4 linked regions of the Homo sapiens genome follow. The protein of the gene in region 1 interacts with the protein of each later gene in a biochemical or structural test. Each region holds a gene or a part of one and is shown in the gene's direction. Other genes may lie near its edges.

What was found.
Region 2: the proteins of HOXD12 (region 1) and MAF form a complex in vitro, tested with the Homo sapiens proteins (one study listed by BioGRID).
Region 3: the proteins of HOXD12 (region 1) and MAFK form a complex in vitro, tested with the Homo sapiens proteins (one study listed by BioGRID).
Region 4: the proteins of HOXD12 (region 1) and MAFB form a complex in vitro, tested with the Homo sapiens proteins (one study listed by BioGRID).

What each region holds. Positions count from the first base shown.
Region 1 is NC_000002.12:176,095,478-176,102,803, forward strand, and holds HOXD12 (homeobox protein Hox-D12), read left to right. Parts: upstream 1-4,317; 5' UTR 4,318-4,324; coding exon 4,325-4,898; intron 4,899-5,044; coding exon 5,045-5,283; 3' UTR 5,284-7,012; downstream 7,013-7,326. UniProt on the Homo sapiens protein: Sequence-specific transcription factor which is part of a developmental regulatory system that provides cells with specific positional identities on the anterior-posterior axis.
Region 2 is NC_000016.10:79,597,728-79,605,228, reverse strand, and holds the start of MAF (transcription factor Maf), read left to right. Parts: upstream 1-4,491; 5' UTR 4,492-5,326; coding exon 5,327-6,444; coding exon of another isoform or gene 6,445-6,448; exon of another isoform or gene 6,449-7,501.
Region 3 is NC_000007.14:1,533,690-1,540,708, forward strand, and holds part of MAFK (transcription factor MafK), read left to right. Parts: exon of another isoform or gene 1-1,191; intron 1,192-3,757; exon of another isoform or gene 3,758-4,768; intron 4,769-5,459; 5' UTR 5,460-5,503; coding exon 5,504-5,539; intron 5,540-6,251; coding exon 6,252-6,686; 3' UTR 6,687-7,019. UniProt on the Homo sapiens protein: Since they lack a putative transactivation domain, the small Mafs behave as transcriptional repressors when they dimerize among themselves.
Region 4 is NC_000020.11:40,686,233-40,694,230, reverse strand, and holds the start of MAFB (transcription factor MafB), read left to right. Parts: upstream 1-4,994; 5' UTR 4,995-5,380; coding exon 5,381-6,352; 3' UTR 6,353-7,998.

The sequences.
Region 1 (7,326 bases):
TTGAGCTCTCAATGCAGACATTTAAATGGCTGCAATCAGTAGAGTGACCCGCGGATGGCATAAATGCACCTCCTTTTCTTGGCCTTGGATCTATGGGTCTGGGATTGTGGTCATCTCCTCAATCCTCAAAAAGAGGCTGAATCAATGTGGCCGTGGGTGGGAACTTACATACAGAACCCAATGAAGAACTTGACTGTCTAAACAAGGGGGCCTCGCATGGAGCTGTAAAGCATCTAACAAATATGAAAAATGTGAAGTTCCAAGGTCCAAGAAGAAAAATAATGATGTTTCTGAAAGTGATGATAAATAATTACTTTTAAAGTGCTGCATATTTATACAATTGAGAGATTATTTTTGTAAATGCAATGTCTGTGAGCTGGGATACATGGGCAGTGCTTCAGACATTTAAAAATCACTTTTTACTCCTAGGGAGATGCCAATAAACAGAACTCTTTTGTTTCTTCTGAGTCCTTATACATTTGTTTTATTTTTTCAAGTTTGTGTTTCTTCTTGAAACGATTCTTATTTATTACAAAATCTTGGTATCTTGAACACAATTATGTTCTCTATAGATGAAGGAAACTCAACACTAATTCTGGTTTCTGGAACCTTCATGCTCTCCACTTTTGCCCCCCTCCCTCCCTTTTGCCCATGACTTTAACATAAGTAGTGATGTTTTAAAATGAGGATATCATTTACAGTGTTTAAAATGATATTTTATACCAGGCCAGCTCAAAAGACAATAAAATTTTACTTTTCTTTCACTATTGTCAATTTATTTATATAGTTCTATTTATTTTTTAATCCATATGTATTTGTATGCCTGTGCATAGAAAAACTTACTCACTTGAAAATTTTCAACCTGGAAAGACCATTATAAACATCTGGACTAGGAAGGTCTTGAAATTAGAAAGACATACCCATATTTGGCAATCGAAAAAGAAACATTTCAAGCTTATCCCATATCGCCTTCTCCGGGCAGTCTGCACAGAGCAGTTGACAACTGAAAACATAAAACCTAAACTTTCAGACGCAATTTTTAGGCACTAGAATTTTCTGTTTGAGGCCTTTTTGCCACTCAGGGAAATGGCCGATGAGGAACTGGATGACTCCTCATGGTTAGCTCCCCACACAATCAACTCAGTGGTTGCTAAAGTTTTAGTGTGTAAGTTAGTTACATAGTGATATTTAAAACCTCACTTAGTGTGAAAACTCTCCTGGTGGGAGGGCTCCCTCATGACTTTGAGAGAGAAAACGCAGAGACCTAAGACTTGGAGCTACTTTCGTTTTCCCTGTCCCAGCTTGATTTCTTTCATATCTTACTGGCGACCGTGGACAGCTAACTTCGATTTTGAGGGGGAGGGACAGAGACAGAGAAACAGAGAGAGATATGATCGCGATTCAATCTTTGCAGAAGAAATAACCCGTGCACAAGGGGCCACACCATCCCCCACCTTACACTTCGGGAAGGGTCGTTACCGTTTTTGTGGTTTTTCTCAAAAGATGTGTTTTCATCAGAAACGGGCACATTTTTCCTTTCTCCTAATCGCCAACTTCCCCTCCATTTTTTGTGAGTCCCACACTCCGGAGCTTCACTCCATTTCCCCTGTCTATTTCTCGGGTTTCCCATCGTGGGTAGGGGAGATTGCCTCGAGGCTTTCCTTTCATCTCTAGTTTGCATGTCACTTCCCCCCCTCCCCCCGCCTTGGAGAAATGGTAGGTTTGCTGAAGATTAAAACTGTGCTCAAACGCTCTCTGGAGGAATTTGGATTGAGGGCTAAATCAATAACAGAAGAAGGCTTTGTTATTCATATGCATTCCCTTTATATTCCAAATTGCAGAGGGAGGAGAGGAACTGGTAAGTGGCCCAGGCACTGGGAGGGAGGCCCTCGGGGAACCCGGAAGGCTAAGGGGGCTTGGAGAGAGGCCTTTCCTTCGGTTGGAGACAGGCGGCAGGAGAGCTCCTCAGAAACCCGGCAGGTTTTTAGCGCCGCGGGTGGGGGAACGAGGTCCCCGTGTCGCGTGATTCAAGAGGCGAAGGAAGCATTGGAGCCGGGACTCACGGTCAGACAAAGGGGCGACTGCAGTGCTTCCCCGCCTCTGGCAGCCCCCTGGGTCCCTCTGGCTCCGCTGTCAGGGGCGGCCTTGCCGCCAAGATCTCCGGCTTTCGGAGGCGCTAGGCTGCGTCTGAAAGCGGGCTGGCGACCCCAGGGAGGCCGCACCGCCCTTCACTGTTGATCTTGACCGTGCGGCTGCGCCCCGATAGGCATGGAGCGCGCTCGCCATCTCCTGGGCATTGGGCGGCATTGGCAGAGCTCTCTATTCGCTCCTCAGCCAAATCCTGTTCCATTCTCTTAATCACCAGCCAAGCCACTCTCCCGCCACTACTTTCCACCCCGATCCTCCCTCGATCAGGTTCCCCAGCTCGCATAAGACTTTGCCTGCCAGACCTCGAAAGTCATAAACCCGGGGGATGAAGTGGGAAGACTGTCCAAGGAGCAATGGAGGGAACCTAGTTGTTCTTGTTTTTCCTGTTTTTCACTGAGTTCTTTTATGCCTTTAGTCCTGAGGCGCAAACAGCTGTTGTAGGGCTGCCTAAAGGTCCGAAAGAGACACCCCTCGGCTTGGAAATAACGAGGAATCGTCGTGCACTGAAACGTGAGGAGAGACTGCAGGGACCCCTGGAGCTGGAGCTTTCGGGAGTAACGAAGCTGCAGCTCCTCGAAAATAGGATGGGTTCCCCAAAATAAGAGCTCTTAGGGATCTGAGGCTTGTATTCCCTTGAGTATCTAGGAACTGGGATTGCAGTTTGTGCTTGCCCCCACCTCCCAAGAGAGGACGAGAGCGAGTGAGTCTCTATGCCTGGGCTCCTAAGGAAACTCTCTGGCAGAGCCAGAGGAGCCCCAGACATCCCCACCCCCCCGTCCTCACTCCCTCTCTCCCCCCCACCAGAGCAGGAGGAAGAGGCCGATTGCGTTCCCCAGAGCCACCCAATTGGTCGCCATAACTCACACAATAAAGTGGCAGCGCGGCGGTCAGTCTTGCCCTCCGGCGGCGCCTGTGTGGTCTCAGTGCAGGAGCCCGCGATCTAACCAATTCCAGCTTGGCTCGGAGACCGAGGGTCCTGCTGCAGGCTGAGACTGGCGCCGGTCACCGGGTCTCCCAGGGTCTTGGGATCAGAGGCAGGAGGGGAGGACCCCTAGTCCTCTGGCCGGACTAGGCAAGAGGGCCAGCGACGGGGTCTGAGCACACCGCTCCCGGCTAAGAACTGCTGCCTTTCCCACTTCCCTGTTTGTCAGACCCGTGAACTCCCTATCCCCGGCACCCCTGGGGGCGCTGAGGCAAGGAACTCTGCTAGCCAGCTGCCTCCGAACGCCCGCTGTTCCCCGGCCAGGTGGTTCTGGCTCTTCTGCCTTTCCACACCCAGTCGGGGGAGTTCGTCCTGCTTTGCCCTCCACTTGGTGGATGGGGACACCTCGGAGTTCTGGTTTGCAGTGTGTAGTCCTGGAGAGGACTCCTGAAGATAAAAGGAATGTAGCCTTTGGCCACGATTGGTGGATCGAGCTGATGGGTTCCCTGGCGGACATTCTCCATGGACCTGTATGGCAATTTCCCTATGATCAGAGTTCTTAGCCATGGGGACACAAACCAGAAATAGTGTGGCCTCCTTCCTGGATCCCAAAATTGGGTAGTTTGTGATGCCCTTTTTGTGTCTGCGGCCTGGGACTGAGGGCTCAAGTAGCGAATGGGTCTTTGCTGCCAGATCCTCAGGCAGAGGTCTCTGGAGAAACCCTCTCTGTGGGAGTGATTGGGGTAAAAGTGACATTGCTCAGGCCAAGGGACAGAGCTCCTGGTGCCGCCGGACCGCGCCCTCTCCGGATAAGTCGAGAGGCGCCGGTTAATGGAAAATGCCTCCGCTGCAACTTAAAGCCGGTAGAAGCAAGCCGGGCCCAGAAAGCCTGCGGAAAACGAATCGCAAAGCCAATCACGACCAAGAAGAGTCCCAGGGGACACTTGGGCAGAGTCACCCTCTTGCCCGATGTCCCCAGCTGCTGAAGCCGGGCCTGGAAACCCGCAGACAGTTAGTCTTCGCTCAACCTGATTTGGCTCTGCTGGCAGCCTCGTCCTTCGCCATCGAACATTGCGGGTGTTATCATAATACTCTGAAGGGGGGGAAAACGGGTCGGGGGGATGTAGGCGGTGCTGAAATGACCGGCTTTGAAGAACCTGCAGGCAAAGTTTCGTCCAATCGTCTGAGCCTGTCCTCTTATTCCCGGTTGTAACTAAATACTGTTGCGAGCGCAGCCGAAGCCCTTTGTTGGAGATGTGTGAGCGCAGTCTCTACAGAGCGGGCTATGTGGGCTCGCTTCTGAATCTGCAGTCGCCAGACTCTTTCTACTTCTCCAACCTGAGGCCGAATGGCGGCCAGTTGGCCGCGCTTCCCCCTATCTCCTACCCGCGCGGCGCGCTGCCCTGGGCCGCCACGCCCGCCTCCTGCGCCCCCGCGCAGCCTGCGGGCGCCACTGCCTTCGGCGGCTTCTCGCAGCCCTACCTGGCTGGCTCCGGGCCTCTCGGCCTGCAGCCCCCAACAGCCAAAGACGGACCCGAAGAGCAGGCTAAGTTCTATGCGCCCGAAGCGGCCGCTGGGCCAGAGGAGCGCGGTCGTACCCGGCCGTCCTTCGCCCCCGAGTCTAGCCTGGCTCCTGCAGTGGCTGCTCTCAAAGCGGCCAAGTATGACTACGCTGGTGTGGGTCGTGCCACGCCGGGCTCCACGACCCTGCTCCAGGGGGCTCCCTGCGCCCCTGGCTTCAAGGACGACACCAAGGGCCCGCTCAACTTGAACATGACAGTGCAGGCGGCGGGCGTTGCCTCTTGCCTGCGACCTTCACTGCCCGACGGTAAACGGTGCCCATGCTCCCCGGGCCGGTTTGGGCCGGGATGGGAGGTGGGGTTCAAGGGAGAGTGTAAGGGGAGGTGAACCGCCTGGGGGCGGGCAATAGACAGAGTACGGGCTGGGTTGACGTGGGTTGGGGCTGTGTTGCAGGCCTGCCGTGGGGGGCGGCCCCGGGGAGGGCCCGCAAGAAGCGGAAACCCTACACGAAGCAGCAGATTGCGGAGTTGGAGAACGAATTCCTCGTCAACGAATTCATCAACAGGCAGAAACGCAAGGAATTGTCCAATAGGCTGAACCTCAGCGACCAGCAAGTCAAAATCTGGTTCCAGAACAGGCGTATGAAGAAGAAGCGCGTGGTGCTTCGGGAGCAGGCGCTGGCGCTCTACTAGCCGCGCGCGTGGCCAGGGCCGGGTTGGATCTGCCCTTTTGGACAGAGGCCTTGTTTGGGGAGGGGGATCTGGGGCTAAGGCTAAGGCTTTTCCTTCGGTTCCTTCTCTGCTGGCCCCAGAAGCCACCAAGAGATTTACAGACCAGGCCAGTTGGGCCTCCTTGCTTTCCTCAGTCCCTGAGAAGCCCGTGAGAAACGTGCGGAAGTACCAGTGCAACTCTGGCTGGCCTTAAGGCTTCCACGTTGGGGGACTGAGGCCAACTCTCCTTGCTCCTGGCTGGGGCATTTGCACCCACCGCTCATTCTTGCTCCCCGGTACCTGGATTTTTCTGTTTCCACCCAATTCGTTCTCCCTTTCCCCCTCTCTCCAGCCCCTTCAGCGTATAGCAGTCGCCTAGTTAGGGCTCAGAGTGGAAGGCCTCCTGAGGGAATGGAAAGGACTGTGGGTACAATTAGGTCTCTGCAGCAGAAGCCCTTTGTGGCAAGGCCAGGATCTTCACTCTGGAGAAAGGAAAGGGCACCATCCACCCTCCACCCTCCTGTCTGCCCTGGCTGATTTGAGAGAACAAAAGCCACACTAGATCTTCAGACTTTGGGAGGAAAAGGGAGGGAAGGGGAGGGGCTGGGTAGTGGGGTAAACTTGGAGATATCTCGAAATGAGAAATGCGAAATAGGCTGGCCTATTTCCAGCTGGGTAGAATATGTGGAACCTTCATTTCCTGAGATGGGATGAGAGAGACTGGGACTCCAGACAAGTGCCATCTCCAGACAAGACTGGCAAACATTGCCCTACTCCCACCTTCTCAAACATGCCTAGGCCAGGCCTATGAACCCTGTAACTGGATCCCCAGAGGCTAGCTCTGGTGAAAGGAGCTGTTGGTCTGCTTTGAAGCTCTGTTGCACAGGGAGAGGGAAAAATATCCAGGGGAGGAGAAGGGAGTGAATAAGAGGAGGAGGGGTGCTGCACTCCAACTGTAAATATGGCTTTCCAGTTGAGGTGAGTAAAGGTGTTGGTGCATCTTTCTTTCTTCAATTACCTTAATGGAACCCCATAAGGATAGGCAAAAATCCTTCTCAAGAGTCAAGGGGAGGGGAAGGAAGTCTCTTAGATTCTCTGCCCCGCTAGCTGCTCTTGACAAAGCAAAGAGGACCAGAAGTTCCTCTCACCGTCTCTACCATCTGCCAACTCTACCAGAGGCCCAGCTACTGTGCCCCTTCTGAGGCATGTCTGGCCTGTCCCAGTGGAGACTTTAAGGCCCTGGGCCCTGCCAGGCTTGCCTCATGGAGGCAGGGGTTCCCAAATGCCAGGTGGAGTTGTTCTGGGTGTACTGGAGTGTCCCGCCTTAATCTCAGTGAACCAAGCCTCCCCCTGCGAGCTCATTCCACTATCCCTGCCTCTTCTCCCCTCTCCTTCTGACATGTAGCACTCCTCCTTCGCAATTCCTAGCATGATGCACAACAACTCAAGGATTCAGGATTCCTTCCCAAAGTCCAGTGATTTCTTTTCAGTGCAGGACCTGGCCCTAAATCTGGAGTGGGCCCCTCACAGAGAGCCCTGAGCCTTAGCCCAACTGACTTCAGTTGATATTTAAACTAATTTCATTTTCTAGGCTATCTAATAGTTATCATGCATGTTTTGTTTTGATTTTGTCAAAAACAGTAGCTTGTATATATCAGACACAATATATACAAATGTTTTGAGTGAAAATAAATATCCAGGTCTGAGCCAAGCTGTCAAGGAGCTGAAGTCAATTTTTCAAAATGTTTTGGATTCCACCTTAATGTTTTTCAGGCCACCAAATTCGTTTTTCTTTTCTGGTTATTGTTTCACCGCGAGTGTTGACTGTTCGTTAAATGAGAAAATGGCTTCCGAGGCAGTCAGGAAATGGTGTGTAAAAGCCTACAAACCAAATATGTTTGGAATATCCAAAAGGGAAGGACCATGGCAGATCTGAGTGTGTCTCACACATTAAGGGGACTCTCAGCTTGTTGCAAGCTGGGACTTCCACACTTAGCCTAAATTCTCAAATTTTAAAGCTTGCTG
Region 2 (7,501 bases), on another chromosome or scaffold:
AACCAAATGTGAGTTGTTCTCTAACTGCACTGGAGAATCAGAATTTATTGTACATATGTTTGTGTTCCACTTAATAAAAAAACCTATATTTTAAGATAAACTTTGTTAGTAATTCATGAGGTAAGTGACTATTTATGCTAATCAGGCAGAAATATATTCTCAAGCATAATGCATTACATAAATTTGAATGTAAAATGTTCAATTATGAAGTAAATACAGGTAATGCAAATAATAAATTACCTCTAATAAAAATTATAAAAGATGTGCCTTGAAAGAGAGAGCGGCTTTAACTTACAACTGTGAATTGCTTAAAGAGAAAAGAATTAATAAATGCTGAATTACTCTGATGATTATTTAGCACATAATTCACCTATTCATAACGACTCCTAGTAATCAGACTGTTGTTTCACATCCTCCAACATGAGGCAAGACTGTTTCCTCAGCAATTTTGCCCTTATCAGATTATCTCGTCTGATTCTATTAATTTTCTTCCATGAATCTGCTAACAGTGATTTGTGATTTACTTACCCTGCTAACTGAAGACTGTTAAAAGGATTTATCTAACACTGGACCTAAGAACAGTGTACGCCTTATCGTTCAGTTACTCTGAAGAACTCTTTCTCAAATCAATTTAGTTGGTTTCATAGTGAAATTTAGTGGACACTGGTTAGTTCTGCCCCATAAAATCAGCCCCTAAACAAAGAGTCCAGACACCATACCTGATGCATCCCATTCTATTCAGATTATGGATGTCTGATTCCAACATGATATATTTGAGTTGCTATAACTCACAATCGGGGAAAATATATTCCTTTAAGCTTTTAATCTTTGTAATTTGGACATGAACAGGGGTTTTGTTTTTCATTTTTGCATGAAGTCATTATGTATGTACTGACGTGAAACTATAATTGTGTTTCTGATGTTACTGTGTCACAATATTCTATGCGATGTAACCCATGTCCTCCTCCCCCTCACAAATCTCCTATAAATATTCATTGCTTTCAAAAACTTTAATACTACTGGTCCGAATTGGTCAATAATGACAAATGCATGGTTTCTAAATTACTGTATATTGTTCTACAGAGATTACTAGAGTATATATAGCAAGGGGATGTTAAGCAGTAAGAAAACACAGTTCACATTGTATTTGGATTAGATTGGCTTGGATAGAAGTGAAACAAACAATGTTAGCAAAGAAGTCTAAAGACATGTGGCCCACTGTAATTGTACAGAATCAAAAACCTGAATAGTACTCATTAAAATGAGAGAGCTCAATTGTTATAAAAGAAATGCTGCTAACAGAGAACTGTAAATGTTTAGACACCCCTGTGAATCACTAAATAATAATGTAAAAAGGATAAAAATGAGAATTAAGTTATAAGCCTGAGAGCATTACTGCTACACATCTAAAAAAATAATTCTGATCCTCTCTTTTTTTTTTCCAAGAGAAAATGGGCGACTATAAAAGACCTTGCAATAAGAGAAATAAAAATACCATGTCTTCACAGCAGTGTACATAAATAAACCATAAAAATGTGCAGATAATAATATATTTAGCTGCCCAAACATGGGCATTTAATTTCTAGAAATGATATATAACAATGTAACAATTAGATACTCAGCCATGAATGTGTATGGCACAGTCTTCATCATTAGCAAACTTTGTGTATAAAATATTATTTATTATTTATTATAATACTGCTTTCAGAGGCAATGATCATACCTTACAGCTTTTAACACAAATATGATGCAAAAGGATTAAAAGTATATCATAAACAAACAATAAATTCTTTCTAAATACACTTAAATTCATATTTTACATGAAAAATATAAACTTCCTACATTTGTGACTACTGACTTTTAAAAAGACCTAGAAAACTATTGTTACGGGCAATGTTAAATGACATAATGCTTATGTAATGGAAAGTGTGGATTTTCCTCTAAATAAACTATAATCCCTTAACTTCATTACTAGGGAAAATATTGTTAAAGAGAAGGAAAGCAAGGGAATTCTGCTAGGTTGCATAAATATTGACATAATCTTCACTCTTTCTTCCCCAAACTGGTAATAGACATAGTTTATTCCACCCAACAAAATGCTCTTATAAGACCAAAACTACCCTTATTAACAACTTCTCTGCAGTCACGATGAAAAGAAACACTACTTGTCTGAAAAATACCGACAGCGCTGCCCTTTTCAGATTAGGGTGTGCCTACGAATCTTTTGGGAAGTCTTCCATTAAGGATTCCTGGGTTTGCTGAAACTGAAGTCTACTAGGATCAGAGAAATTAACACAGGTCTAATATGGTGCAAGGAACGAGTGAGAGACACCTGAGGTTATAAATAGCAAAGCATGCTGCGGGGTGGGGAAGACCATTCTGAAGTGCAATGTTCAAGACGCTGGCTTAATATATGACTAAGTGTCAGAAGTCAGGTTTTCTGAGAATTACTTTCCAGATAAACAACTTTATAGCACTGCACTTAATCTTACTTACTAGAGACATCTCATTTATCACTGAATTACAAGTAACTTTAATCCTATTGATATTGCCATAAAGCCCGTTGAAAATCCATCCTGGCACTTTTAAAGGGTTTGGGGCCCTGTTACATGGGGATCCTCTTGCAAAGGTCTCAGCCAGAAATTACACCCCGAGGGTGTCTGTATCCCCTGGCCTCTTTGTCAACAATCAAGGAGAAGAGGAGGGGCAAAAATGATCTCTGCATCTGCCAGCACTTTCTTCGGCCCCTTTCCTATAGGGTCGGGTTCTCCCACTTCAGTCAAACTAACTTTGTGTGTCTCTTTCCTCCTCCCACACTGGGTAACCAGCTGCTTTTCACTTCATCGACAAAACTGGACACGGATCAATTTCAACTGACCTTTGCCGAAAGGTGGCGCTGTTGAGGTAAAAACCAACTCGCTCCAACAATAGTTTCCACTCTTCGATCCTTTTGCAGGCTTTTCAGAATTTTTTTTTTTTTTTAATGCACCCTCCTAGCGTCTCCCCCTTCTCATAAAGTAAAATAAATACGATTAAAAACACCAAATGCATTTCATTAATTGAAGGAATCAACAGTCCCAACTTCTAAGCAGACGGGCTGGTCTTCCAAAGGCTGGGTCGGTTTCAGGAGCTTTCTCTCCAAATAAATCTCTGCTTCTTCGACTTGCCTATCGCTTTAAAATCTTAGAAACAGAGTTAGTTGTTGGTTTCCTTCTTTTTTCTTTTTCTTTTTTATTTCTTTTTTGCATAAACTTTTAGAGAATCAATCTAGAAATTTGAACTACTTATTAGCATTTGCAACTGGGGGTGGGGGGAGCAGCCTCCCCCACCCCACCCCCCACTCTGCGTTTCCGGACTAGTTCCAGAAACCGCGGTTTAAAATTTAACCCTTCGAGGGTAGCTGGTGAGGGCTGGGGTATTGTTTTTCCCCCTTGCTCCCTGCCACGATCAAGTCCGAAATAATTAAAGGAAACGTAAAAGTGCAAAGGGCGCGCCTGACCCTGATAAACAGAGGTCAGATTTCGTAAGGGGACGGGTGAGTGTGAGTGTGTGTGTGTTTGTGTGTGTGTGTGTAAGAGAGAGAGAGAGCGAGCGCGCAATATGAGTCTCAAAGGCCAAACTCCGGCCAGTCAGGAGCCGGAAGGCTGAGCCCGGCTGACCTGACTTTGAGCTTCCCCGGAGTTATCTCGCATAGGCGCTCGCTCTGTCCAAGGGCACGCGACGCCAGCGGGCAGCCGGTCTCCGTGAAGAATGGCCTCTAAACAACTTATTTTACCTCGTTGTAAAGAGAGGGATAAAATGGGCTTTCCCTCTCCACGGATGCCCAGCCTTCTGGGCAGGCGCATGGCCGGGCGGCGCCCAGCCCGCAGCCCCGATCCGGACACCCCACTGCATCCCTCCCTTCCCGGTCCCTTCCCCGCACGGGCGCCCGAGAGACGGACAAAGAGTTGGGGCCAAGTTTGAGCGCCGGGCACGGCCAGGCTCAGGGAAGGAAGGTCCCCGGCAGACACCTGGGTACCAGAGTTGGTGCGAGGAGGAAAAGCTGGGAGGCGAATTCACAATCCTGGGGGTGGAGGGCAGGCAGGGGAGGGGAATCAGGCCAATCCCAGCCGAGTGAGCCCCCAGCGAGCTGGGGCTCCGGATGGGAGGCCTGTCTCGCGCTCCAAAGAAAAGCAAACCGCCCTCCCAGGTCCGCCCGGATTGCCGAAGCCCCTCTGGAAAAACTCCTTCCCCTCTTACACCAAACTTTGCGCCGGGCCTCGTTCCCTCCCGGGTAGGCAGCGGCGCAGGAAGGGTTAAGCCAGCCCGTCCCAGCTGACAGTCAGCTGATTGGGCCCTGATTGACAGCTCCGAAAAGTTTCCTTGTTTCTATACTATTATGCTAATCGCGGCCGCTCTCGCCGCCTCCCATTGGCCCGGAGTGCCAGTCAATTTCTCATTTGGACCTGACGTCACGAGTGCTATAAAACTCAGCAATTGCTTTAAACTCTTCTTGCTGGATCAGAGGCTTTAAAATCTTTTTTCATCTTCTAGCTGTAGCTCGGGCTGCTTGTCGGCTTGGCCTCCCCCTCCCCCCTTTGCTCTCTGCCTCGTCTTTCCCCAGGACTTCGCTATTTTGCTTTTTTAAAAAAAGGCAAGAAAGAACTAAACTCCCCCCTCCCTCTCCTCCAGTCGGGCTGCACCTCTGCCTTGCACTTTGCACAGAGGTAGAGAGCGCGCGAGGGAGAGAGAGGAAAGAAAAAAAATAATAAAGAGAGCCAAGCAGAAGAGGAGGCGAGAAGCATGAAGTGTTAACTCCCCCGTGCCAAGGCCCGCGCCGCCCGGACAGACGCCCGCCGCGCCTCCAGCCCCGAGCGGACGCCGCGCGCGCCCTGCCTGCAGCCCGGGCCGGCGAGGCGAGCCCTTCCTTATGCAAAGCGCGCAGCGGAGCGGCGAGCGGGGGACGCCGCGCACCGGGCCGGGCTCCTCCAGCTTCGCCGCCGCAGCCACCACCGCCGCCACCGCAGCTCGCGGAGGATCTTCCCGAGCCTGAAGCCGCCGGCTCGGCGCGCAAGGAGGCGAGCGAGCAAGGAGGGGCCGGGGCGAGCGAGGGAGCACATTGGCGTGAGCAGGGGGGAGGGAGGGCGGGCGCGGGGGGCGCGGGCAGGGCGGGGGGGTGTGTGTGTGAGCGCGCTCGGAGGTTTCGGGCCAGCCACCGCCGCGCAAGCTAGAAGCGCCCCAGCCCGGCAAGCTGGCTCACCCGCTGGCCACCCAGCACAGCCCGCTGGCCCCTCTCCTGCAGCCCATCTGGCGGAGCGGCGGCGGCGGCGGCGGCGGCGGCAGGAGAATGGCATCAGAACTGGCAATGAGCAACTCCGACCTGCCCACCAGTCCCCTGGCCATGGAATATGTTAATGACTTCGATCTGATGAAGTTTGAAGTGAAAAAGGAACCGGTGGAGACCGACCGCATCATCAGCCAGTGCGGCCGTCTCATCGCCGGGGGCTCGCTGTCCTCCACCCCCATGAGCACGCCGTGCAGCTCGGTGCCCCCTTCCCCCAGCTTCTCGGCGCCCAGCCCGGGCTCGGGCAGCGAGCAGAAGGCGCACCTGGAAGACTACTACTGGATGACCGGCTACCCGCAGCAGCTGAACCCCGAGGCGCTGGGCTTCAGCCCCGAGGACGCGGTCGAGGCGCTCATCAGCAACAGCCACCAGCTCCAGGGCGGCTTCGATGGCTACGCGCGCGGGGCGCAGCAGCTGGCCGCGGCGGCCGGGGCCGGTGCCGGCGCCTCCTTGGGCGGCAGCGGCGAGGAGATGGGCCCCGCCGCCGCCGTGGTGTCCGCCGTGATCGCCGCGGCCGCCGCGCAGAGCGGCGCGGGCCCGCACTACCACCACCACCACCACCACGCCGCCGGCCACCACCACCACCCGACGGCCGGCGCGCCCGGCGCCGCGGGCAGCGCGGCCGCCTCGGCCGGTGGCGCTGGGGGCGCGGGCGGCGGTGGCCCGGCCAGCGCTGGGGGCGGCGGCGGCGGCGGCGGCGGCGGAGGCGGCGGGGGCGCGGCGGGGGCGGGGGGCGCCCTGCACCCGCACCACGCCGCCGGCGGCCTGCACTTCGACGACCGCTTCTCCGACGAGCAGCTGGTGACCATGTCTGTGCGCGAGCTGAACCGGCAGCTGCGCGGGGTCAGCAAGGAGGAGGTGATCCGGCTGAAGCAGAAGAGGCGGACCCTGAAAAACCGCGGCTATGCCCAGTCCTGCCGCTTCAAGAGGGTGCAGCAGAGACACGTCCTGGAGTCGGAGAAGAACCAGCTGCTGCAGCAAGTCGACCACCTCAAGCAGGAGATCTCCAGGCTGGTGCGCGAGAGGGACGCGTACAAGGAGAAATACGAGAAGTTGGTGAGCAGCGGCTTCCGAGAAAACGGCTCGAGCAGCGACAACCCGTCCTCTCCCGAGTTTTTCATGTGAGTCTGACACGCGATTCCAGCTAGCCACCCTGATAAGTGCTCCGCGGGGGTCCGGCTCGGGTGTGGGCTTGCTAGTTCTAGAGCCATGCTCGCCACCACCTCACCACCCCCACCCCCACCGAGTTTGGCCCCCTTGGCCCCCTACACACACACAAACCCGCACGCACACACCACACACACACACACACACACACACACACCCCACACCCTGCTCGAGTTTGTGGTGGTGGTGGCTGTTTTAAACTGGGGAGGGAATGGGTGTCTGGCTCATGGATTGCCAATCTGAAATTCTCCATAACTTGCTAGCTTGTTTTTTTTTTTTTTTTACACCCCCCCGCCCCACCCCCGGACTTGCACAATGTTCAATGATCTCAGCAGAGTTCTTCATGTGAAACGTTGATCACCTTTGAAGCCTGCATCATTCACATATTTTTTCTTCTTCTTCCCCTTCAGTTCATGAACTGGTGTTCATTTTCTGTGTGTGTGTGTGTTTTATTTTGTTTGGATTTTTTTTTTTAATTTTACTTTTAGAGCTTGCTGTGTTGCCCACCTTTTTTCCAACCTCCACCCTCACTCCTTCTCAACCCATCTCTTCCGAGATGAAAGAAAAAAAAAAGCAAAGTTTTTTTTTCTTCTCCTGAGTTCTTCATGTGAGATTGAGCTTGCAAAGGAAAAAAAAATGTGAAATGTTATAGACTTGCAGCGTGCCGAGTTCCATCGGGTTTTTTTTTTAGCATTGTTATGCTAAAATAGAGAAAAAAATCCTCATGAACCTTCCACAATCAAGCCTGCATCAACCTTCTGGGTGTGACTTGTGAGTTTTGGCCTTGTGATGCCAAATCTGAGAGTTTAGTCTGCCATTAAAAAAACTCATTCTCATCTCATGCATTATTATGCTTGCTACTTTGTCTTAGCAACAATGAACTATAACTGTTTCAAAGACTTTATGGAAAAGAGACATTATATTAATAAAAAAAAAAAGCCTGCATGCTGGACATGTATGGTATAATTATTTTTTCCTTTTTTTTTCCTTTTGGCTTGGAAATGGACGTTC
Region 3 (7,019 bases), on another chromosome or scaffold:
TTCAGGCGGGTGATGCTTGAGGGCTGGGATCAAGCCTGGTTGGCGCGTGGATGAGGAAAAGAGAGAGGGGCAGGGGCAACTCCGGTGAATGATGCGGTTGGGGGCTGGGGGGCATCTGGGCCCCCCGGAATGCCCCTGACTGGACTTAGAGGCTGGGAGCGGATTGAAGCCCCAGGGCGGCCGGGGGAGAACAGGATGCTGATGGGGAGCTGGAGGCCGAGGACAGGAGGATGGTGTGGTGGGAGCCAGGGCGGGGACTGGAGGGGGTGTGGTGTGTTCTGCAGTCTGCTCTCTGCTGCTGCAGCTGCCTGAGTCACCTCTGGATGTAGCGGAATGACACAGCTTCCTCAGACTGCAAATGCAAGGTGACCAGACGTCCTCCAAGCCGGGCCGACAGTCATGGCTTGCTGGAGGGCAGCCAGCCAGGGCCAGGCTGCTGGCTGGTATGGGCCGGGCTGCGGGGTGCCAAGTGGGGTGCCTCCCGCATGCTTAGTGGGGCTGTGTCCGGGACAGCCGGACAGTGGGGGCCCTCGCAGTGTAGGACCTCATCCTCAGTAGGAAGGGTGTCTGGCTGGTCTCTGGGACCAGCTGGGCTGCAATTAGTCGGTTGACACCTGTTTGACAGGCACCCACTGGGTACCAGTGCCACAGCGGCCCCACCTACCCTTGCGGCCCAGTGTGGAGGGCACCCGGCTTGGGGTCTCTGGCAGAAAGGCTCCTGGGAGAGGCGGGTACACCTTGGGTGGCCTCTGGTTTTGTGGATTGCACCTGCCGTGGGAGTCACTGGTCGGGGGGCGGGAGGGCGCTTGCTGCTGTGCTGCTGGGTTTCTGAACCCGTGTCTCTCGCACAGAGCTCCCGTCCTCCGTTCCTGGTCTTCCTCCTGCCCCTCCTCCCTCTCCCGCATCCCACATCCTCGGAGACCCGCGGAGAATAGAAGTGGAAGGGCCACTCCGTCTTGGTCAGACTGGCTGGGCAGCTGAGGGGGTGGGGCATGGAGTCTGTGTCATCATTCACCCCTTGGGCAAGAACAAGTGACCCATCCAGAGCCCCCATGCTGGCCTCGTAGAGCGAGCGGCAGCCCCGATGCGTCCTCTCATCTGGGAAGAATCAGAGCCCCAAAGCTGAAATCCCCGTTTCTCTATGGGCATCCACAGCCGGGACCGTTCAGAGGGGTCATCCAGCCGTCAGCTGCTCAACTCACTTTTGCACTCTCTCTTTTTTTTTTTCCTAAAAGATAAGGTCTTGCCCTGTCACTCAGGCTGCTGGAGTGCAGTGGTGTGATCACAGCTCACTGCAATCTCGACTTCGAGGCTCAAGCAATCCTCCCACCTCAGCCTCCCGAGTAGCCGGGACCATAGGCACATATGTGCCATCACAACTGGCTATTTAAAATTCTTTTTTTTTTTTTTTTTGTAGAGATGGGGCCTTGTTATGTTGCCCAGGCTGGCCTGAAACTACTGGGCTCGAGCATTCGGCCTCCGGAGGCGTTGCTATTACAGGCAAGAGCCACTGTGCCCAGTCCCAACTTGGTGGAGAAAATGTTCCCTCCTGGACCCCAAAGCAGGTCCTTCTCAGCTTGTGCCAGCACAGCAAGAGGTGCCAAGGCTGCCAGCCCCCCACTGAGCAGGGTCAGGCCCATGGGTGACCAGTGAGTATTTGCTGGGACTTAAAAAGTTAAAAATGGCCGGGCATGGTGGCTCATACCTGTAATCCCAGCACTTTGGGAGACTGAGGCAGGAAGATCACTTGAGTCCAGGAGCTCGAGACCAGCCTAGGCAACATGGTGAGACCCTGTCTCTACAAAAAAGTTTAAAATTCTCTGGGTGTGGGGGTGCCCACCCGTAGTCCCAGCTGCTCGGGAGGCTGAGGCAGGAGGATCGCTTGAGCTCAGGAGGTCTGCAGTGAGCTGTGATTTCACCACTGCACTCCAGCCTGGGTGACAGAGTGACACCTTGTCTCTAAAATGAAAATTAAAAGGGAAAACATGATCCTCCAGAAGCTGAGGTGGCTGCCTGGGGATCACCTGCTCCTGAAAGCACAGTTCTGGACGACTGACCCTGGGCTGCCTGCCCTGCCGGGGGGAGCCCAGGGCTCTGATCCTCACCCTCTGCAAGGTGCCTTCCTGGGCGGAGCCGCCCTGCCCTGCGCTTTATGGAGCCCAGGCCCTCAGTCTGGATCCTGGAAAGGGGCGCCCGGCGTCCTGGCTCCGTCACTCATCCCCAGCTGCAGCCGCAGGAATTGCCTCTGTCTGAGGCTGCTGGCAGTTCCTTTTCCTTGAGAGGAAGTGATGCCCCCGCTGAGCCTTGTTTAGTTCTGCGTCACGTCGAGGTGTCTGGCCTTGGGTTGAAAACCCTGCCTCTTCCATCCGAAAACCAGTTACCTGAGAGCTGTTCCAAGTTATAGGTGGTGCCGGAGAACTTTGCTGCCCGGCGCTGCTCCCGGGACGTGGGGCGTGAGCGCTGCACCCTTACTTACGTCGGCTGCTGGGGCCCCACAGCGGAAACTCAGACCCGCCCACCCAGGCCCCCGCTGTGGCGCTGAACACTGCACTTCTCTGGTGACCACCGAAACTCAGAGGAGCTCGGGGTGTCGGGTGCTTGTGCGTGGCGATGCTGGTGTTTTGTTAGCTGCTGGGCGTAAGACACAATGCGAGGACGTCGTTCCTCGGGGGCTGCTGGAGGGGAGCTTGGCTGCAGTGCTGACCAGGTGCTAATGCAGTAGCCCCTGCCTTGGGCCCGGGGTAGTGCACGGGCGTCTCTGCGACCCCAGGCACGCTTTCCCCCTGGATGACACCCTAAGGCTGCGTCTCTGGCCCTGGGGTGGGAGCGCTTTCTACATGTGCTCTGGCGGCCCTGGAGGCCATGTGAGGTCGGACAGTTCACAAAACCCCATTTAGGGCAGTCGTCATTTTTAGATCAGTTGCTTTACAAACTTTTTTTGTGCATACAAAACTCTTCTCTGAATGTCCTTCCAAAAGCAAGCTGTCATCTTTCTTGCCTCTGATGTTTAAAGCGACATTAGGTTAAGGCTACTTGGATTTATTCTGTGCATGGTGGGGAGAGGGAGGCGCCAGCACCATCCCATCCCGTGCTGGGTTCCTGAGAGAAGCTTTGCTGCTTGGCTGGGCCGTCCCGCTGCGTCGTCTCTCCAGGCGCGTGGCTGGTCCAGGCTTCCTCGGCAGAGCAGAGTCGTGACCTGCCCAAGGAGGTGGGGGGCAGGCTTGCGAGCACAGCGTGGGGGCCGCCTGGGAGCCCTGCGTCCGCCAGGTCCTCATTCTTCAGAGGGCCCCAGTGCAGGTGTGCCTCGAAGTACTGGGGTTGGAGCGGGGCACAGGCGTGCTTCAGTAGCCCTGGCAACCTTGACCTCCTGGAAGTAGTCAGCCACCCCTCCTGGGGCGCCCCCGGCTACCGTGTGCCTCCGCAGTGTCACAGGGCATCGCGGAGGCATCTTTTTAGTGGAAAGATCCCCACGCTGAACTCTGCCCCTGGCATCTGGCCGAGCCCCACACGTCACCGTGGGTCTGGCCAGACGGTCCTGTCCCCCGGACCTTCCTTTTCCGCCCGGCTGTGCTGCCACGGCGGGCAGTGGGCCCGGGGGCCCAGGAGCGGGTCCTTGCTGGGTGGGAGGCCCGGGTGTGTGGGAATGCGCGCGGCTCTGTAAACATCTGGTGACTCACCGCATAGCTATGTCGTGGCCGGCCTGTGCACTGACGTGCTCGCAGTGGAGCTGGAAGCGGTGCCCGCGGCCCCTCCCTCTGACATGGAAAAGTTTCTCATGGTGCTCCCAGCCGCCGGCATTTGCAGGTCCCCACGGTGGCGGAGGCAGCTGGGCCCCAGCCTCTCCACTGTCACCCTCACCCCAGGACGTGGTGCGAAGGAGCCTGGAGCCCACCTGGCCGTCCCCGGGACCGGCTGGTGCCATCCTGTGCCATCTACGTCAGCGCCCTGAGATCAGCTGGCCTTGGCAGGGGCAGCGGACTCGGCAGCCTGGCGCAGGACCCTGTCTCACCTGTGCGGCCCTCTTGTTGTGGGGGTTTGTGGGTTGCGGGGGTGGGGCCCCCATCGGAGGCAGGGCTGGAGGGTGGAGGGATTTGGGCCCGAGGGCTCCCTGGCCCAGGGTGTGGGGAGGGTCCTGGGCTGGCAGGGAGGACGGGATGCGGTCACCCGCCCCCATGATGCCCATGTCCAGTGGAGGTGCTGACCAAGGACACCCCCCACCGCCGTGTGCTGCTCTGATGTTCCTGTGGGAACCTGTGTCTGGTATTTGGGGTATGGGAGTGGGTGCTGTGAACCCCTGTCCCGCGAGCTGCCCGGCGCCTTCTGCCCGCCCGTCCCGGCCGCCGGGTGCAAATGGGTTTGTTGACTGCCTGCCGGCCTCGTGATGTCTGTGCAACCTGACCTGAAGTCAGGATCGCGTTTGGGCTTCTCGGTTTCCATGACAACCGTGGGGGCTGGCTCGGTCCCAAGGTCGCCATGGCAACTATCGGAGGGCTCATGCCGGGGATGCTTTGGCTGGGTTTTTCATGAATGATTAGAATGTGTGACACAATGCAGACGTGAGGACGGCGGGGGCGGCGGCGGGGACGACTCCCGCCAGACGGTCAAATGCTCGGCAGGGCGGCGGCTCCCCCACCTCCCTGGTCTCTGGCTGCGGCCCCCGGACCTGCCGCCCCTCAGGAACCCCACACCCCCTTGGGCCGCAGGGTCCTCGCTCGGGGGCAGCTTAGGTGGAGGTGGTGATGTCACAGCCGCAGCGGCCAGGGCCGTGGTAGGTGTCCCGTGGCCTGTGGGGAGGGCGGGGCGGGAGGGCGGCTGGGCCTCCACCCAGGCCCACCGTGGGGGATGGCGATGTCAGGGGCTCCCCAGAGGCCCCCTCTCGGGGATCCAGGCTGGGTCCGGAGCACCGGAGCCTTTGCCAGTGTAGGGTCGCTGTCCAGCGGGGCCCCACACTCCTCGGGGCCGGCACAGCTGTCTTGAGGGAGGGAGGTTTTGCCACCAGTCACTTTGGTCCTCGGTACGGGGCACCTTGTGCTGTGCAGGTGCAGACGTCTTCTCTGACCTCAGGGAGAGTCAGAACAGGAAGCAGCCACTGCCGGCGCCTGCTGGTCACCCCACAGTGCCGGCGGCTGCAGCCCAGGTCTGCAGGGCAGCAGGGGGCCGCACCTGGCTGCCAGGCCCTGGGGTGGGGTCCCAGCCGCTCTGTGGAGTGTGCTAGAGTGTGAGGTGCAGCCAGACCTTTCCCTGAACCCTCAGGCAGGGACAGAGGCCGGGCCAGGATGCCTCACCCCCTGGGAAGCCCCTCAGGACGGGCTGGGCCCGGATGGTGCCCCGTCTTGTTTTCATGGTGCTGTGACTGTCCACCCCGGGCTGAGAAGCATCCCTGCATGGGAGGTGGGCACCCTGTCCGGCGCTGCCGGCCCTGACCTGTGCTGGCTTCTCTGCTTGTCCATGTTTTCCAGCTACGAGTTCCAGGGAGCTCTGTCCTGGTGACCGTGCCCGGGTTATGACGACTAATCCCAAACCGAATAAGGCATTAAAGGTAAGGCTGGTTCCAAGCAGGCCCCGTCTCAAGCACAGGCGTGGGAAAGGCCCCCGGCCCGACAGCCCCTGCTATCCCAGGGCCGTCCTGAGCCTGTGATGGAGGCCTCCCTGTTGCCAGGAGGAGGGGGGCTGCTGTGGCCGAGGGATGTTCACAGGAGAGGTGGAGTCAGGATCGGGGACTGTGGTTCCAGGCGATGACTCCCAGGCTGAGGGCGTGGCAGGGTCTGCTGCCTTCCCGCCTGGGCTGTGTGTCCGCCGGGCGCTACTGCATGAGCTCATCCCCTGGCTCCAGGCGTGGGCAGCGTGGCCAGCGTGGCCTCTGGTGAACGCGATGCTCCAGCTCCCAAGGCCCGAGCCCACCTGTGCCTGGCGCTTGCCGCCTCCACAATGGCGTGTGCCTGTGGGCCGGCTCAGTCCCAGCAGCAGGACCCATGCACTCTGGGTCCTCATGGGCTCTGAGGCTGTCGGTAACCAGGAGTGACCGATGTCACCACTGGCTTTTCCCGTTCAGAAAGGGTCCTGTGGGGCCACAGCTGTCACATGGGCTGCCTGCGTGCACAGTGTCCTGTGGTCCCTGGTGCGGATGGCGAAGGCCAGCCCTGAGAGCGCAGGCGTGCAGGGGCACCGCTGGGTTCCTGGCCACCCCAGTGTCGGTCCCAGGCAGACACCCCACGTTCTCCCGCCGCTGACCCCGCACTGTGGCCCCCCAGGTCAAGAAGGAGGCGGGCGAGAACGCCCCGGTGCTCAGCGATGATGAGCTGGTGTCCATGTCGGTGCGGGAGCTGAACCAGCACCTGCGGGGTCTCACCAAGGAGGAGGTGACCCGCCTGAAGCAGCGTCGGCGCACACTCAAGAACCGCGGCTACGCGGCCAGCTGCCGCATCAAGCGGGTGACGCAGAAGGAGGAGCTGGAGCGGCAGCGCGTGGAGCTGCAGCAGGAGGTGGAGAAGCTGGCGCGTGAGAACAGCAGCATGCGGCTGGAGCTGGACGCCCTGCGCTCCAAGTACGAGGCGCTGCAGACCTTCGCGCGCACCGTGGCCCGGGGACCTGTGGCGCCCTCCAAGGTGGCCACCACCAGCGTCATCACCATCGTCAAGTCCACCGAGCTCTCCTCCACCTCCGTGCCCTTCTCGGCTGCATCCTAGTGCCGGCCGGGGGCGGGGGGTGGCGGGCGGCGGGCGGCGGGCAGGCGGGTGGGGGCACACCCCTCGTACCTGTCACTGGGATGCAGACTCTCGACATCCGAGTCCAAGCGCAGGCCCCTCGGGCGCAGGCAGCTCACACCAGGAAGAGACTGTATTGCAGGGTGAAGAGTGGGCTCCCGTGGGCCCAGAGCTGCACGCCGGTCCACAGACACACTCACGCCCGCCACCTGCTCCCCGCAGGATGTGTCTGTGTGTGGGAATTGGTATCTTGCACCCGTGGGAGTCGGGACATATAATGGAAAGGCCCTCGGGAAGTTCCGCGTCCTCTGTGGG
Region 4 (7,998 bases), on another chromosome or scaffold:
CAAAATGCTCTTAAGACACTGTGATATATCTGCATCCACCCACTTATCTCCCTGCTTACCTATCTCTGTAAAATAGGGATAATAATAGTTACTACTTCACAGAGTTGTAAGAGTTGAGTGAAAAGGTGAATGATGGAGGCTGAGGTGGGCGGACCATCTGAGGTCAGGAGTTGGAGACCAGCCTGGCCAACATGGTGAAACCCCGTCTCTACTAAAAATACAAAAATTAGCTGAATGTGGTGGTGTGTGCCTTTAATCTCAGCTACTTGGGAGGCTGAGGCAGGAGAATCGATTGAACCCAGGAGGTGGAGGTTGCAGTGAGCCGAGATTACGCCACTGCACTCCAGGCTCCAGCCTGGGCAACAGAGTGAGACTCCATCTCAAAAAATAAAATAAAACAAACCAACAACAACAACAAAAACAACAAAACAAAAAGGTGAATGACAAAAGGCTTTGCAACTCCCTGTACAAATGAGAGTGACTATTATCAAATATCCCATCTGTGTTGGAAGCAATACTGCCCAGTGGTTATCTAATGCAGGCTTGTCCATCAGAAATAGAATGTGAGGCACATGTGTAATTTAAAATTATTTATTGGTCACATTAGAACACAGTAAAAAAAAACAGTGAAATAGTTTTAATAATAATTTCCTACCCCTAAGTGTGTGTGTGTGCTCGCGTGCACATTTCTGCATGTATTGGGGTGTTGTCCCTGGTCCCCAGGAGAGACAGCCAGGATCTTCACAGTCAGTGTAACTCTGGCTCCCTACTGGGACCCTCTGAATCTTTTGGTTGCCTAAAGACCACCAGGACCCAGAAACCCAAGAATACCTTTTTAGAAGCACTGGGTTGGAATCTGACAGCGGTTGTATGGGGCAAGGGAAAGTGGAAGTGATAGCTGCCTTTGGGAAGAGGAAAAGGAAGAGTAAGGGCAAAAAACAGAAACAAAAATCCCCCAGAAAACCCTCCTGTCTCTTTTTGGGTTCCATAGACCTTGGGAGGATCCCACGGAATGGGAGCAACATAATACTTTTCCACTGAGCCTCACAAAAGGTGGCAGAGACCTGAGGGCTCCTTGGAAAAGACAGGTGACACTACATCTGGGTGATGCAAAGGCAGAAGTCAAGCTCCTGCGGCAGGCGGGAGGTGGGGGTCCCCTGATTCAGGACCCTCCCTGGCAGAACTTGCCTCTGAGGCCCTTGAGACCACTGGCCTCTGCTTAGCGACTCCGCATAGTACGATCCGGAGCCCACCGAGCTTTGAAGCTGGAAGTTTCCCGCTCCCGCATCCCGCGTGCTGCTGCGCCTCTCCACCAACACACACGCGCGCGCAAACAGCACACGCACGAACACACCCCTCCCGCACGCCTCCAACAGCACCCATGCGTGCACAGAGACGCCTCCTCGCTCACCAACCACCTGCAACCCTCAGGGAAATAACGCCGAAGGTGAACGGCGCACCTTCGGGCTGAATGAGGATGCCAGGAATGCCGCTCTGGTTTCCAGGCGTACGGGAGGACACGCCGCCGGGCCTCTCTGGAGTTATTCCCTCGGCTGAGTGGGGGCCAACGAGGGCAGCGCGGCAAACCTCACACCTGGCGGCTGGCTGTGGGCTCCACGCTCCCTTAGGGAATAACCTCTTCTCTTACTCCTACCCCGAATGCTCCAAGGCTCTGCAGCGGCTCGGACCCTGCAGAGCTTCCTCCATCACCATTTGTAGCTAAAGAATCCCGAGGCGGTGCGTCCCAGAGGCATAGCCTCTGGCCCAACCTGGCGTGGGTAGAGAGGAGGTCACTCTTGGGTAAACACCTTAAATGGGAGTTTTGGCAACAAGCTGTTCACTAGAGGGGCTGTGGCTGCCGCAAAATCCCCGACTTTCCTTCAGTGTGCCTTGGGACTCCGTGCATTTCCTTCAGTGTGCCTTGGGACTCCGTGCACTGCTCGCGTGTCTCCTGGCCTCCCTTTACTTCTCCTCGACCCTTCACTTCTTCCACCGTTCCTTCTTTTACTTTTTTTCTTTGAGCGTGTCGGACTCCCAGTCAATAGGTATACAGCAGCAATCCCTCACCCTCCTCACCTCAACCCTGCCTACGTTTTAGGGATAGGGTGAAGACTGCGGGCACTGCTGTGTATCCATGACGGGGAGCCGAGCCTGGCATGCTGATCCAGAGACCCCAGAGATGAGAAGCGGCATCCCGCGACAGCAGTCGGAAGTTGGAGGCTATAGGGCCTGGGGCTCCAAGTCAGCGCAGCAGTAACCGGGGTGGGGGAGGCCAGGCCACGAAGTGGGGCCGGCTGCGCAGCAGCGGCCTTAACTCCTCGGCCACCTGCATGTCTCCGTCATTCACCCACAGCCTGGCAGGGGTAGGGCTGTTTCCAACATTTTTTTTTGGTGGGGTAGGTTGTGGGGTGTGCAGAGGAGGGAGTGGCTAAGCTGGGAGAGGGGCAGAGAAACGGATTTGGGTGGGGAAGTGAGCCTGGGGATGGACAGAGATACCACAGTCAAAGCCCAGGCGAAGGGAGTGACCACAACAGAGACAGAGGCACAGGGACAAAGAAGAGCGCGGTTGCCCAAAGCCCGAGTCCAAGAGACCCTGAGTCGGAGGCAGGCCGCCCGCAGGAGAAGAGGAGGTTCGGAACCGCAGACCTGGGGCCTCAGGAATCCCCAGGGCCTTAATGGGCCACGGAAGTCTTCGACGGCCAGTGTCAGGCAGAGCCGAGGGGACGTATGGGCGGGGGTGGAGTGGGTCACAGCTTGGCCTGTCCATCTTGGTGCCCGCGCAGAAGTCCACAGTGGCAGAAACACTCTGGGAGCCACAGGTCTCTTAGGACCCTGAGGGAGGGTGCTACCAGCTCTAGTCCAGTCGGGACCAAGAGAGTCAGGCGTGCTTGTCCCGCCCTGGCCGCCTGAGGCCGGAGCCATACATAGTCTGCACAGATCCGAGACACCCGGTCCCGAGTGATCTGGAAACGAGTGTGCTCTCACTGCGTTCAAACAAGACGAGGACATTTACAAGGTGCGAGTCCCCAACCCCCAGCTACTGGCAGGGGCTGCGCAGCGGCACCGCCCAGGCTCTCTCTCCAGGCGGCCGACTCATTTCTGCGGAGAGCACGCTTCTCGAAGAGGGTTGTAGACGCGCTCTTCCAGCATTTAATTTGCCACCCCACAAGATTGAGTTAAGTTTTAGTTAAAATACACTCATTTTATTAAAAATAGGCGGCCCAATACCACGCCGTACCCCAGCCTCTCCGAGGGCGCAAGAGAATAGAGAGTTTTCAGATTAATTGGAGGCAAATATTTTACCTTCTAACATTTAAAAATAATCTAGGCGCGTCTGCACCGGTGTGGCTCACGCGACCCCTACGCGCGAGGTCAGTCGGGCTGGTCCAGCGCAGACAGCGGCCGGGACTCACTCACCCAGTGCGCGCCTCTCCTGCCTTTCGCTGCGCGCGCCCAAAGCTAGAAAGAAGAAGGTGACGCGGGAGGCGGGTCGGGTCTCCGGGTCCAGCGAATTCGCGATCTATCCGGTTTCGGCGCCTGAGCCGAGGTCTCAGAAAGAACCCGTTAATTCTAGCCATCCTGGATCTGGGTAGGGAGGGTGCGCGGCTCCCAAGCCCAGTCTGGATGCCTAGTGCGGTGTGCTTCGGTCTCCCCGTCTGCCCTCCGGGGAGGTTTCTCACCCGGTGGCCCTGGGCCGCTTCACTGTGGCGCTTCCACTTTTGGCTACCGGCCTTCCTCCGCCCAGGACCTTCCGGCCCAGGGAGCAGCCGACGGGCACCCCCGAACGCTGGGGCACGGAATTTCAACGGGGCGACCAGAGCGGAGCTCGCGGCTCGAGGCTCGCGGCTGAGTACGAAGACGGGACCCGAGGACCTGTACATCGCTCGAGGGGAACCTGTCCTGGGCTCTGGTGCACACATAGTATGCGTTCTGGGCTGGCTTGGGTTGGGCCAGGTAGGGGAGACCTGGCTGGGTACGAGGCGCCGTCCAAGCCTTCCGGCCGTGGGCCGGGCGGTCGCGGCGCCTTTGCGCACAGTGGCCACTTGGGGTCGCACTTTATGCCTGTTTGAGCCTCTCCGCGGCGGGCTGACGCCGGGATCTGCTTAATCGTTACAAAACGTTCAAACAAAAACAGGGCCGGCTCCCCAGCAGTGGAGAGCTACTCGGAGCACCGTCCCGGGCCGGCCTCGGCCCCGAGGCTCCGGGGGCTCAGGATTCCGTGCGTGTGGCGGGGAAGAGGAATTCAGAGCCTTTGGGCTGCTGCTTTTCCCGTCGCCTTCACTGTGAACATTGTGCGGTGGGGTGAACGCGGGGAGCGGCGGGGCCAGTGGAGTCGAACCTCAGGGCTCTGCGACTGCACCCGCCAGGAGGGGCCCTCGCTTGGCCTGAGAAAGGTCCCCTGAGGTTAAGAGTTGGGTCTGAACACAACTCTCGGAGCCTCGAGCCCGCCCTCCCCAACATACAAATACGCGCAGATCTCCAGAAACAGGAACGCACGACACACACGGCCAGAAGCCGCGAGGACACACAGAGCGTCGCCCACTGGGCGGGGGCCGCTTGGGAACAAAGGGCCCAGGAGGCGTTGTCCCGGCGCTCATTCTGAGCCTCCTTGGGGGTGACACGGGATGGGGGTGGGGTGCAAAGGGAACTGAGGGAGGAGAGTGCGCGAGGAGGGGAAAGCGGTGATTTGGCCTAGAGGTGGGGCGCGCACTCCAGGCGAGCGTGCGTGGGCCGGGACCTGCAGGGTACGGGGGTGGGCCCAGGCTGGCCGTCCCACTCCGCTCCAGCGCTCCGCCAGGCCTCCGCCGCTCCGGGGCCGCTCGGGCCGCCAGTCAGCTGACGCGGGGGGCGGGGGAGCTGTCAGGCGCGCCCCGCCCTGCGCCGCTGGGCCGCGGAGGCCGTGCAGCTATTGGCCCGCGCACCGGGCCGCCCGGGCCCCCGCACCCCAGTGACATCAGGAGGCGATAAAAGGCTGCGGCGCCGCCGGATCCAGCACAGCTGCACCGCCGAGCTGCGAGCGGCTGCGAGCGAGAGAGCGTAAGAGCAAGAGAGCTAGAGAGCGAGCAACGGGCACTCGCCCCACGCCTCCCCTCAGCCCCACCGCGCGCTCCGCTTGCCTCTCCACCCCGCCCGACTCTACCCGGCCCGGTCCCTGCGCGGGCACAGCCCAGAGCTCTGGGGCGGTGCAGGCAGCCTCGGGACTCTCCGGCGCGCCGCCGCGTCCCCAGACAAAGGCTTGGCCGGCGGCCCCGGCCCGCTGCGCCCTCGCTCCCCGCCTCCCCAGCTCTTCTCCGCTCTTCCCCCCCGCGCTTGGCTCGGCGCGCTCCGGCCGGCCGCAAAGTTTCCCGGGCGGCAGCGGCGGCTGCGCCTCGCTTCAGCGATGGCCGCGGAGCTGAGCATGGGGCCAGAGCTGCCCACCAGCCCGCTGGCCATGGAGTATGTCAACGACTTCGACCTGCTCAAGTTCGACGTGAAGAAGGAGCCACTGGGGCGCGCGGAGCGTCCGGGCAGGCCCTGCACACGCCTGCAGCCAGCCGGCTCGGTGTCCTCCACACCGCTCAGCACTCCGTGTAGCTCCGTGCCCTCGTCGCCCAGCTTCAGCCCGACCGAACAGAAGACACACCTCGAGGATCTGTACTGGATGGCGAGCAACTACCAGCAGATGAACCCCGAGGCGCTCAACCTGACGCCCGAGGACGCGGTGGAAGCGCTCATCGGCTCGCACCCAGTGCCACAGCCGCTGCAAAGCTTCGACAGCTTTCGCGGCGCTCACCACCACCACCATCACCACCACCCTCACCCGCACCACGCGTACCCGGGCGCCGGCGTGGCCCACGACGAGCTGGGCCCGCACGCTCACCCGCACCATCACCATCATCACCAAGCGTCGCCGCCGCCGTCCAGCGCCGCTAGCCCGGCGCAACAGCTGCCCACTAGCCACCCCGGGCCCGGGCCGCACGCGACGGCCTCGGCGACGGCGGCGGGCGGCAACGGCAGCGTGGAGGACCGCTTCTCCGACGACCAGCTCGTGTCCATGTCCGTGCGCGAGCTGAACCGCCACCTGCGGGGCTTCACCAAGGACGAGGTGATCCGCCTGAAGCAGAAGCGGCGGACCCTGAAGAACCGGGGCTACGCCCAGTCTTGCAGGTATAAACGCGTCCAGCAGAAGCACCACCTGGAGAATGAGAAGACGCAGCTCATTCAGCAGGTGGAGCAGCTTAAGCAGGAGGTGTCCCGGCTGGCCCGCGAGAGAGACGCCTACAAGGTCAAGTGCGAGAAACTCGCCAACTCCGGCTTCAGGGAGGCGGGCTCCACCAGCGACAGCCCCTCCTCTCCCGAGTTCTTTCTGTGAGTCGTGGCCGGTCCTGGCCCCCGCCCTTGCCCCGGCCCGGACTCCCTGTCCCACGTCCCTAGTCCCAGACTACCCCGGACCCTGTCCCTGCCGCGGCCCCAGCCTTGACCTGTTTGACTTGAGCGAGAGGGAGGAAGGGCGCGCGGGCCGCGGGCGACGGGCGGGTGCGCGGGCGGGCAGGGGACCTTGGCTAAGGCGAGAGTAGCGCACGCCAGCGCCGCCTCCTAGACTCGAGCAGAGCCGGAGAGAGAGACGAGAGGGTGGGAGGTCCCGGAGTAACTTCTCTCCAGGCTGAAGGGCGGCGAGGCATAGTCCCGAGAAGTCACCAAGGCCATCTGGAGACTCCTGGCTTTCTGAACTTTGCGCGTTAAGCCGGGACAGCTGCTTTGCTGCCCGGAGAGTAGTCCGCGCCAGGAAGAGAGCAACGAGGAAAGGAGAGGGACTCTGGCGTCCCGGCAGGCGAGAGGCGAGGCTGAGCGAAAGAAGGAAGGACAGACGGACCTGTCTGTCAGAGTTCGGAGAACACTGGCTCTCAGCCCTGAGACACAGGCCTCAGTTAGGACGCTCGGCGCCCAAATCTCATCAGTTTTATTGCCTGCTCGATTATATAGAAAAATACAAAAAATCTGCATTAAAAATATTAATCCTGCATGCTGGACATGTATGGTAATAATTTCTATTTTGTACCATTTTCTTGTTTAACTTTAGCATGTTGTTGATCATGGATCATACTCCCCTTGTTTCTTTGGGTGAGAAGGGATCGCAGTTTGGAAACTCCGGCGGCTGCGTGCGGGGTTTCAGTCCCAGCTGTAGGCTTGTAAATACCCGCCCCGCCAAACCGCATAGAGAACGTGGCAGCAAGCTGAGGGTCTTTGTTTGGGTTTATTATTACGGTATTTTTGTTTGTAAGTTAAAAAGAAAAAAAAAAAGAAAAAGTTCCGGGCATTTTGCATCAGAAAACAACTTTGTCTTGGGGCACACTTGGAAGTTGCATGTTTTCTTTCCTTCCCTTATCCCCATTCGGTCCTCTTTTTCCTCTCTCGCTTTAGTTTTCAACCTTGTTGGTGCTGAGAGAGAGAACCGAGAGGTCCCAGTACAAGGGCAGGGCAGGGCAGGGAAGCTGCCAAGCTCCGCACCCCAGAGGAGTGTTCTGGACTACAGCCTTGTCTTATGGTCAAATTGATACCCTTAATAAGAAAGGAAAGGAAAGGAAAACAGATCCTCCCCTCTGCTTTTTATTGTAACCAGAATCACCCTGAGGTCCCTTCTGAACCCTCTGGGCCTGCGCTAATTGTAGGAGCCACAGCGCTCCTAGGGTGAGAGGCTTAGCCATCCCTGACCCTGGCAGTGCACTGGTAAGCAGACACTGCACTGAACCAACTGCTATGCTCAGAATGTACCAGAAACCCAAACATTGGCAAGTAATTTTGCAACTTTCAAGTGCGTTCTTTAGACCAATGCATTGCGTTTCTTTCCCTGCTTTTGAGATAGTAGGAAGAGTTCTTGGTGGTGTCCCCCCCCTTCAATTCTTCAGTTGTATAGTAGTTATAGGGAAGATATGGGTGTTTTTCTTTATTATTACTTTTTTTTTTCTGCAGGTCAGTAAAAGGATTTAAGTTGCACTGACAAAAATACCAAAATAAAAG